Regions from separate parts of the Homo sapiens genome. Here regions 2 and 3 are each reported to be linked to region 1. Evidence: microRNA targets listed by miRTarBase, many of them from high-throughput screens and not tested one by one. Region 1 holds a microRNA gene; each other region holds the end of a gene's coding sequence.

Region 1 (3,256 bases):
GGTTAATTCGTAGTTTAAAAATCGGTTATTTCAGAAGATGTCAACCATTTGGATGGTTAGAAAAATTCAAATTATTAGTTTTTCTTCTTCCTGTGATTTCTAGCATCTTATAGCTAGCTACAGTTTAGTCCACTTAAACTCTAATACACAGTGTGTCTGATTTTCTTCTTAGGATTTATTTACTGTCTTTGGATAATTATACATAGTGAATAAGTAAACTTGACTGTTTTTTTCTTGGTGATAAAAGAGGGATTGTTTTAATAGTAAACTGTTTTTACACAAAAATTTGCATACAGATTGTTACAGTGACATTTTTATTTCTCATTTTTTATGATTTACCCTTCCCGCGAGGAGGTCATAGAGGCCAGCCGTATACGTATGATGCCAAGGTAAAAAACTTTATTCAATGGATTAGAACAAAGTCTGATTCCGGGGAACAGAAGAATATGGTTATTGGTGGATATTACCCCTATCCACCAGTGCCAGAGACATTTTCCAAGTATAGTAGTTCTATTAAAGGTACTAATGTAATTGCCAGTCCTTCTAAATATGTTTATATTTTATATGTATGGCTTATGCTATTTCAATTAGTCATCTTTATTCTTTTCTTTTATGGGAGTGATCTAAAGTTTAGCAACATTCACCGATAATAGCTTTGTCTTAATGCAGATCTAAAAATATATGTCACGTATTTTCTATATAGTTTTCCCTATATCTCGCATGGTGCTCTAAAGATTAATACTTTGATTTTTATCAGACTGGAAGAAAAGAGAAAACACAGATGATAACCAACTGGAGATATAGGTTGAGTATTCCTAATCCAAAAATCCGAAATCTGAAATGTTCCAAAACCTGAAACTTCTTTTTTTTTTTTTGAGACGGAGTCTCGCTCTGTCGCCCAGGCTGGAGTGCAGTGGCGGGATCTCGGCTCACTGCAAGCTCCGCCTCCCGGGTTCACGCCATTCTCCTGCCTCAGCCTCCCATGTAGCTGGGACTACAGGCGCCCGCCACTACGCCCGGCTAATTTTTTGTATTTTTAGTAGAGACGGGGTTTCACCGTTTTAGCCGGGATGGTCTCGATCTCCTGACCTCGTGATCCGCCCGCCTCGGCCTCCCAAAGTGCTGGGATTACAGGCGTGAGCCACCGCGCCCGGCCTAACCTGAAACTTCTTGAGTACTGAAGTGACACTCAAAGAACTACTCATTGGAGCAGTTCAGATTTTGGAATTTTGCATTAGGGAAGCTGAACTGATAAGTATAATACAAATATTCCAAAATAAAGAAAATCAGAAATCTGAAATATTCTGGTCCAATGTATTTCAGAGAAGGGATGTTCAACCTATAAATATCTTTATTTAATGTCATTGAGATCACATCTGACCTTGGTGTAGATCTCAATTGCTATGATGTTATACAGAAAGACTAAAGATATCTAAAGGAGACACTGGGTAACTTGATATTCAGAGACTGACAACTGTATTATGCGACTCTTGTGGAATGATATATATTGTGTTTAACACAATTGAGTGCTATCTTTAAATATGAAATGATGCCAAAATAAATGAGATGCTGAATTTGGAATTGAAGTACTGATGAGAAGCCTACTATTAATATACTTTTTAGTAGAATTAATATATGACAGTTGAAAAGTTTAGCACAAGCATGTTCTTTTTTAAAAAGCTATGAGATAATTGCATGGTTTTGGAAAAAAAGAGAAACTTTAAAATGCGGACCTATCATCATCTAAATATTGGCATCCTCTTATACATCATAATGCTAGCAATATGTAATAGTGTTTGAAATAATTAAAATGTGTTTTTCTATGCAGTGGCTAGGCAACACTTTATAGTTTGAAATATAATATGTAAATTGCATTTAATATGCAAAATTTATTTTGCAAATGAGGGGTACAGAGTGGAAGCCTGTATTCAAATTTAACTGATAAAAGTATTTTGCCTATTTCACAAAATTATATAGAAGGATGCCAGATATAAACACAGTGTCTCACAGTTAATGTAGTAAGTTTATAATTTTGTGTTGTGAAATTACATTGCAAATCTAATTCTTATTTTTATCATTTCAGTTCTTTAAAACTTACAATTTTCTTGGACTTTTTTGCAGTTGAGTCGCTCTTGACAGCTATAAGTGAAGTCAGGAAGGAGATTGAAGACTTGCAGTATAGGGAACAAAAGCGCATTGCAATTCAGGGGATAATTACTGCTATAAAGTATATCCCCCATAGCAGTGCGACTGAAAGTGCCTCAGCATCAGAAACACTTCGGGTATGGTGCCAGAGAATTAATAGTATTTCTCTGAAAGCACTGTGATTATGATTGCAATTGGTACCTTTTACATTTTATTCAGAACTCACGTGTATTGACTCTTAATAATGTAAGCCTAAGAGAAAACATTAGGTTGGTGCAAAAGGCATTGTGGTTTTTGCCTATAAAAGTAATGGCAAAAACCGCAATTCCTTTTGCACCAACCTAATATTTTTACTTTTTTGTTTGTTTCCTTTTTGTGTCATTTATTTGGGGGCAGACTAGGCCAATAATGATTATAGCCTCTTGACATTTCCCAAGGCCCTCAAAACTTGGTATCCTGTTTTTGCATTCTGTGTAATTTGAGGCTATTGTGGGTGTTTTAAATTTCTAGGTGGTATCTATGACTATATTAATTTCCTACCTTTTGTCCAGGCCAGTACTACAGGAAAGCTTTCATAGGAAGTTTTCTCTATATCTGGCATAGTAGTCTTACCCAGGTTCTATAACTCTTCTAGAATAAATAGTTTAGTATTATAGAAGATGCCAGTTCTGGAATATTGGCACAATCAAGACAAGTTAATTTTTCCCATGAGTTTATCTTTTTAAACACTACGTCCAGGACTACTACTATTTATATGGAAATAAGTGTTTAATCCAGCTTTTCAGATAGTAGTATAAGAAGGACTTTTGTTTGTCTTCCTTTTAAAAAATATTTTAATAGCAGATGGATTAGATTCAATCATTTTCATAAAAGCACTGTTATGATTGAAGTTTTGCCAGAACTGTTGATTATGAAAAATGAATACACTAAAATTGTAGTCTTTTATGAGATTAATAATTGTGAATTAGCCTAAAGTGTTTTCTCTAAATTATTGGTTTTAGAATGCTAACAGACCCTCGACCTCTCAAGCAGCTAGAGTAGAAATTCAAGAAAGAAATGGTAAACGGCATCAAGATGATGAGCCTGTGAATTCTCAGTATTTCCAAACTAC
Region 2 (3,256 bases), not on the chromosome of region 1:
ATAATTGCTTGAACCTGGGAGGCGGAGGTTGCAGGGAGCCGAAATTGTGCCGCTGCACTCCAGGCTGGCGACAGAGAGAGACTCTGTCTCAAAAAAAAAAAAAAAAAAAAAAGATTCACCATATGATTTGCCAGTTCCATTTCTGGGTATACACCCAAAATAATAAAAAACAGAGGCTGGGAGAGAGATTTGTACACCCATGTTCATAGCAGCATTATTCACAATAGCCAAAAGGCAGATGTAACCATTCATCAATAGATGAATAAATAAACAAAGTGTGGAATATATACAATGGAATATTATTCAACCTTAAAAAGGAAGGAGATTCTGCCATATGCTACACATGAATAAACCTTGAAGACATGATGCTAAGTGAAATAAGCCAGTTGCAAAAAGACAAAGACTTCATGGACCCACACATCTGAGGCACTTAGAGCAGTCACATTCATAGAGATGGAAAGTAGAATGGTGGATGCCAGGAGCCGGGGGAAGGCAGGAATGGGGGGTTATTTTTTCATGGGTACAGAGTTACAGTTTTACAAGAGGAAAGGAGTTCTGGAGATGAACAGTTGCGGTGGTTGTACAACATTATGAATGTACTTAACACCACCAAACTATACACCGGCAAGTGGCTGAGATAGTAAACTTTATGATACATGTATTTTTAAAACTGGCAAAAAATCCCTACAAACATATAGCAACAAATAGTTTTCCCTTTGCTTCAAGCCCCAATATATCTTAGCATGCCTCTGTTTGATCCTCTGTTGGATTTTGATATTTCATTCATTGTGGGGTTTTGCATTCATTTGATTTTTAAAAATATTATCCTAATATTATTTACCTTGGTTACTAAATTTTTTGGCATCGCCTTAAATGTTGCACCCAAGGTGAGTGTGCCTCACTTCCCTCACCCTAATCCCAGCCCTGCAATTATGTTCCTGCCTCGAGGGCTTCCAAGACTCTCCATCACCTTCTGAGAAAGCCCAGGCCCTCCGACTGGCTTTGGGCACCTGTCCACGTCTCTCCTCCCCTGCTCTTGCTCCACTGAACTCCTGTGGCCATAAGCCCATGTTTCTGGGGCTGGTAGACACTACGGTCCCTGCCAGAATGAGCCTCCACCTCAAAACTCCCTCTTGATCCAAGACTGTCCCAGTGAATATTTTCCACAGCTCCTCTCTCCTCAACTCCCGTGAAAAGCCATGAGTTGGTCCCATACCCCCAAGAGTGCCCCACCTTGTCAGGCCAGGTACTTCTTCCTGGGAGGGGCCATCTTCCCACTTCATGCCCAACCCAGCACTGGGCACTTAATAAATGCCCATGACTTGTGATAATTAAGTCCTCCACCAAGAAAGGACAGCTGGAGCCTGATGCAAAGGTTTATTGCTGAGTCTGTGCGTCTAGCTGAGGGGAGTGCAAATTGTGCCCCGGCCTTGCCAGACGGAAGCTCCTTGTCCCCGACTGCAGCACAGGCCCTGGCCTGTGGACATAAGCAAAGATTTGGTGCTGGATGAGGAAGGAGGGAGCAGGGATGTGGGGACATGGGCCTTTGTCCCTGATAGTTCAGCCATGGCTCTCAGCTTCCCCTGCCAGGGAACCCTGAATGGAAGGGGCAAGAGAAGCTGCTGGTAGGGACAAGAGGGTCACCCAGGTTTGCTTGTAACCCCACCTGAGGTAGACCCTTTTGGGCACAGCCAGGGCCTTTGTCCTATCCTGAATCCTCTGGGCTGATCCAAGGGAGCTGGACTCTGTCCCCAGCCACCCCTCAGGACAGCCCAGCTATTGGCCATAGCTGGTGTCAACAGTACCCTCCCTTAACCCCTTAACACACCATCCTGTTGTCCAACCAGCCCAGGGTACTGTGTGTGGGTGGGGAAGTGGTGTGTGGATCTGCTGTCCAAGGACACAGGGAGCAGATCCTGCTGGAGAAGGCTGGAGGTTGCTCTGAGCCTAGTATTTGGGGAAGGGTCCTGCTGTGTCTCACTCTGGCACCCAAGGGCCCCCAGGTCTGCCCCCTCCCCACTAATTTATTTATGTGGGGGCCACACAGGCCAGAGCTAGCTTGGACTTTGGACCCTTTGGAGGCTGCTGGGAGGGACAGTCACTGGCTCTGGGTAGACAGGTGTCAAACTTGTCACATGGAGGTGGCAGGGTGAGCAGCTGGCCTGTGTGTGGGAGGGATATTCCCTGTCCTTGATGAAATACTGGGAGGGAGGGCTGTTTGCTGAGCCCAGGCCCACCAGGTGAGTCGTGGGCCCCCAGGGGCAGGAGAGCTGCGGGAGATTGGTCAGTTGGGCACTGCTGAGTCACCGTGAGCTTCAGCTGCCCCAAGTCCTGCCCGTTCCTAGCTGGGGCTGGCTGCTGTGAGTCCTAGAGGCCAGTGCAGCCGGGCGGTGAAGGGCAGGGCTTGGGGTTGGGGGCATGAGGCGCTGGGATACTGTGGGAGGTATGGGGGAGGGTCCGCGCCTCAAGGCTAGCAGGGCTCAGAGCTTTGGTGAGGTGGCAGGTTGGGGCCAGGGAGTCCCAGGGGGCTGATAGGGTCCTGGGGTTTGGGGCTGCAAGGCAGCTAGGGCTACCAGGTCTCAGGGTGACTGACACGCATGAATTCAGGCACCTGTGAAAAGGAAACCCAGTCAGCATCCCTGAGACCCAAAATAAATGGGTTTAGGCATTGTGTGTGGTGGGGCGGCCCTGGAAGCTGTGACACCTGAGGTCTTGGGGCGGGGCCAAAAGAAATTCAATGGGTGGGACTTGTGGGGTGGGGCGGGGCCTCTGTCGGTGGGGTGGAGCCTGAGGAGCTGGGGTGGGGCCTGGAGGCAGTAGGCTCCAGGATTTGGGGGTGAGGCTCCAGGGCCGTGGTGTGGGGTGGGGAGCTGGACGGGGCTGGGGTATTGAGGCAAGAGCCTGGAGAGGGCAGCGACCTACCTCAGAAGAGGCCACAGTCTTTGAGGTTCTCCTTGATGATGATGTCGGTGACAGCGTCGAAGACAAATTTGACGTTCTGCGTGTCGGTGGCGCACGTCATGTGGGAATAGATCTCCTTCACGTCGCGCCGCATGTTGAGCTCGAGGAACTGCACCTTGATGTAGTTGCCGGCGTCCTCGTAGGTGTTGGGTCCTGCGGGGGCGGGAGCTCTCACTCTGCTCAGCCCTTCCTTCCCCGTGCGGGGGGTGCGCGCCGCGATCGTGGGGCGGGGGCGCCGCCTGGCGGCCTTGCGGACTTCTCACCATCGTAGTCCGGGAAACAGATGCTGAGGTGC
Region 3 (3,256 bases), not on the chromosome of region 1:
TCAAATGGGGTTACTAATAGCACCTACTCTGTGGAGATCTGACAATTAAATGGGATCTGGTATAAAGCCCTAAGAATGGGTTCCTGGCCACATGGTGTGTATGGGAGGGTTTGCTCCAACTACCACCAATTCCTGTTTGCGTCCTTTCCCCAACCCCAGCAAAGTACTGGGCAACATGGTGCCAAAGGAAGATCACCAATGTCCAAGGACCTGAAATTAAGGTTCGACTCTCCAGACACACTAGGGGCAGGTTGCCCTCTTGGTAACAAGGATCTTACCCACCTCACAGGGTTGTTATAGTGGTCAAGAAAGATGGCCCATGCTATTTCCGGAGACTGCCAGCCAGCCTGGCTGCAGCAGTGGCCTGAGTGAAGCAGGCGGAGACAGTGGTGCGGAGAGCCCACATCTAGATGGGTGCCTGCCGCTCAGCAGCTCTCTTGTTGCCATGCAGGCTGACAGTTGCCAATTTTTTTTATTTCTTTTTCCCAAGAAAAGTGAGAAATCTGGATTTTTATGAGAAACCTCCTGATTTCTATGGATGGCAACTGACGCAAAGATTTTTGTGTTTGCTATTTAAACACAGTGCCACCTAAACAAAACCTTGAAGTAGGGGTGATATGCTGCATAGGCCATCAGGGTGCATGTTCTGAAGTCTTCCCTCTTCTCTAGGCCCCTTCCTGCCTTCTTACCTCTCTGCCCCCACCCTCTGCCCACCCCCGGCATGTCTGGCACCCCGTAGGGGATTTGGTCCGGGGAGTTTCTTCATGCTCCACTGAGATCAAGGGGATACAGAGCCCAAAAAGGATGACTTGTTATGAACGAAAATGACAGAGGCAAGCAGTTTAGAAAGTACCAGGTTTTATTATCTTTTTATCAAAAAAAATCAGTAACAGACAACAGTGTGAGAGGTGCCTACAGAGGAGGTGCTCACTCCAACACAGCCCAAGGGGAAGGGCACTGGGGGCAGAAGAGGACCCAGCCAGCTGGGACCCTGGGTTGCAGTGGTGACGGGAGCTAATGGCCACTGGTGCAGCAAGGGAGGGTGGTTCCCCTCACCGCAGCCACTGGGGTCAGGAGGAGACACGACCTGCCCAGGCTAAGCCACCAGGCCTCCCCTCTCAGGAGAGGGAGGGTCCCAGACAACAGGCCCCAGCTGGGGCCTCATCAGCCCTCCCCCATTCCCCCCCCCCTACCCAGGGAGACAAGGGTCGTCCCAGCACAGCTGAGGCTGTGACTCGTTAAGCCAGTTTAGTTCTCTAGAATAGTGCTGTCCAACAGATGGACATGCTCTCGCTGTCAGTACAGTAGCCATGAACTACATACAGTGACGCCTCTAGAAACGTGGTTAGTGCAACTGAGGAAGGAATTTTTAATCTTATGTGATTTTAATTGGCTTAACTTTAAACAGCCGCATGTGGTTACTGTATTGGATAGCACAGCCCTAGAGCCTGAAGAAAGCAAACCAAAGAACACCAGCTGGGTCCCAAACAGAAGGCAGAAAGGGTAGAACCATCCACCTCAACTATTCCAGCCCCATCAGAAGGCACCAGGAACAGGGCAAGAGAAAAAGGCAAAAACCCACCCAGCCACATGAAAATTCACTCACTCAACCACCCAGCAACATCAAACTGGAAACACCACACTATTTCCTGAAAAAAATATATTTATCTATTTTTCTAGAACCAAGGAAGAATAATAATATATTATAAGAACACAGACACAAATATCCCACCATCCCCTTCATTATATTTTGGGATCTGCTAAAAAAAAACTATGTTTCGGCAAAAGCTATTTTATAAGAGGAAGCAGCTTCAGAAAGGGCCAAGGCCATGAGGAGCGGGGTTTAAAGTATAAAAAAAAAACTGGGGAAGGGGTTTAATGAAAGAGAACAAAGAAAGAAGAGGGGAAGGGAGGCCCTATCTAAAGCTATAAATAGTAAAAAAAAAAAAAAAAAAAAAAAATTAATAAAAATCATCTCTCCGGCTCTTCTCTCATTTTCAAGAAACAAACAAAAACAAAAACAAAAACCATTAAATACAAACTTAGCAGGTGCTGTGGAAATGTGCGAGAGAATGAAGACACCTCGGCACCTCCACACTCTTGCCCAGGCAGAGATATACACTCTGCACAAAGGAATGAACAGTTAAAAAAACGAACAAACACTAAAAATAGATTTACAAATATTCTATAAATCCATTTCAGCATAAACTCTCAGCTCTTTTCCCCATCCTCCCCCCCAAATAAAAAAGGTTGATTTCCAAAAGTCACTTGAAAGAGCCTAGAATGGCCCCAGGTATATACCACAGAGATTCCCGTAGTGTGATCACAAGTACCCATTTACAGAAACATCTCAAGGTGCAGGTGGTTCTAGTTCCTTCCCCCATTTCCTGGCAGAGAGACCGGCTGTGAAAGGAAGGGAGGAAGGCCACTGGGGGAGGACCTCCAGCCAGGACTCCACACAACATCCGTTAGCCCCCTGGCTTCAGAGGAGCTCTGGATGAGGCATGGTCAGTATGGGCTTGAGGGCGGACCTAGATTCTTAACTGGAAGTTTAAGAAGTGATCCAATCCCAGTCTTGCCTTCAGAAAGGCCAAGTTGAATCCATTTTTCTGCCAGGGCAACTGAGGCCCAAAGCTCAAGAAGAACCTGGCAGAACAGTAGAAGACAATGTCTCTTCTGAACACTTCAAAGGTAATCAGAGCTGGAGATACTGACAAGTCAGTATTAGGTTGACCTCACCCTACCCTAATGTCCACCCTTCAAAATCCCCTGGCTTCCCTCCCCGCTAAAGTCCAAGCCAGTGCCCACAAGCAAGCTTCACGCGTAGAACTCATTGGTGGGGGCTTTCTTGTAGATGGGTTTCTTGCCCAGGTCATAGCTGCCTTCATCCTTCTTCTTCATACGGTACATGAGCAGTAGGATCAGGAAGACGGCAAAGAGGATGCCCACGATGCCACCCACAATCAGAGCTGGAGAGGAGGAGAGAGAAGAGGCGGGGGTGAGAGCTCCTCATCAGGACCTAAGGATGAACCCCTCTTTCCCCCACTGTCAGTTCTCTTACAACCAGACATCCTCACCATCACCACTGCCTGTGCCAGGCAAGCTGATGCCTTATTTAAGTTGACCTCATGACCCCAGTTATAAGAAGTGGGTCGTTGGCATTTTAAGTCACTGAAGACCACAGGGCTAGTGGTAAGGCCACTCCTTTTTCTTTTTGAGACGAAGTCTCACTCTGTTGCCCGAGCTGAGTGCAGTG

Evidence for each region. The annotated mature microRNA hsa-miR-548an reads AAAAGGCAUUGUGGUUUUUG and lies in region 1 at 2,423-2,442, shown strand. An mRNA with a match to its seed (bases 2 to 7 or 8) in the 3' UTR can be bound and repressed. Matches are read on the target gene's strand: a 7mer-m8 pairs with bases 2 to 8, a 7mer-A1 pairs with bases 2 to 7 and ends in A, and an 8mer does both.
Region 2: the mRNA of GNAT1 is a reported target of hsa-miR-548an. Seed matches in the 3' UTR shown: 7mer-m8 at 231-237.
Region 3: miRTarBase lists SDC4 as a target of hsa-miR-548an. Seed matches in the 3' UTR shown: 7mer-m8 at 1,567-1,573.

The regions. Positions count from the first base shown.
Region 1 is chrX:106,637,406-106,640,661 of GRCh38, forward strand. It overlaps MIR548AN (microRNA 548an), which reads left to right and starts at 2,409; the gene lies at 2,409-2,491. RADX (RPA1 related single stranded DNA binding protein, X-linked) reads left to right here. Exons shown (of 14, transcript NM_018015.6): 8 at 355-519; 9 at 2,122-2,282; 10 at 3,147-3,256.
Region 2 is chr3:50,194,623-50,197,878 of GRCh38, reverse strand. GNAT1 (G protein subunit alpha transducin 1) reads right to left here. Exons shown (of 9, transcript NM_144499.3): 7 at 3,225-3,256; 8 at 2,923-3,114; 9 at 183-2,611. The coding sequence ends at 2,924. Among named protein-coding and RNA genes, the nearest start is that of GNAT1, 4.6 kb to the right of the region's middle. RefSeq lists enhancers at 2,380-2,911, 2,964-3,256 and a silencer at 3,098-3,157.
Region 3 is chr20:45,324,447-45,327,702 of GRCh38, forward strand. It overlaps SDC4 (syndecan 4), which reads right to left. Exons shown (of 5, transcript NM_002999.4): 5 at 842-2,969. The coding sequence ends at 2,818. Among named protein-coding and RNA genes, the nearest start is that of MATN4, 18 kb to the left of the region's middle.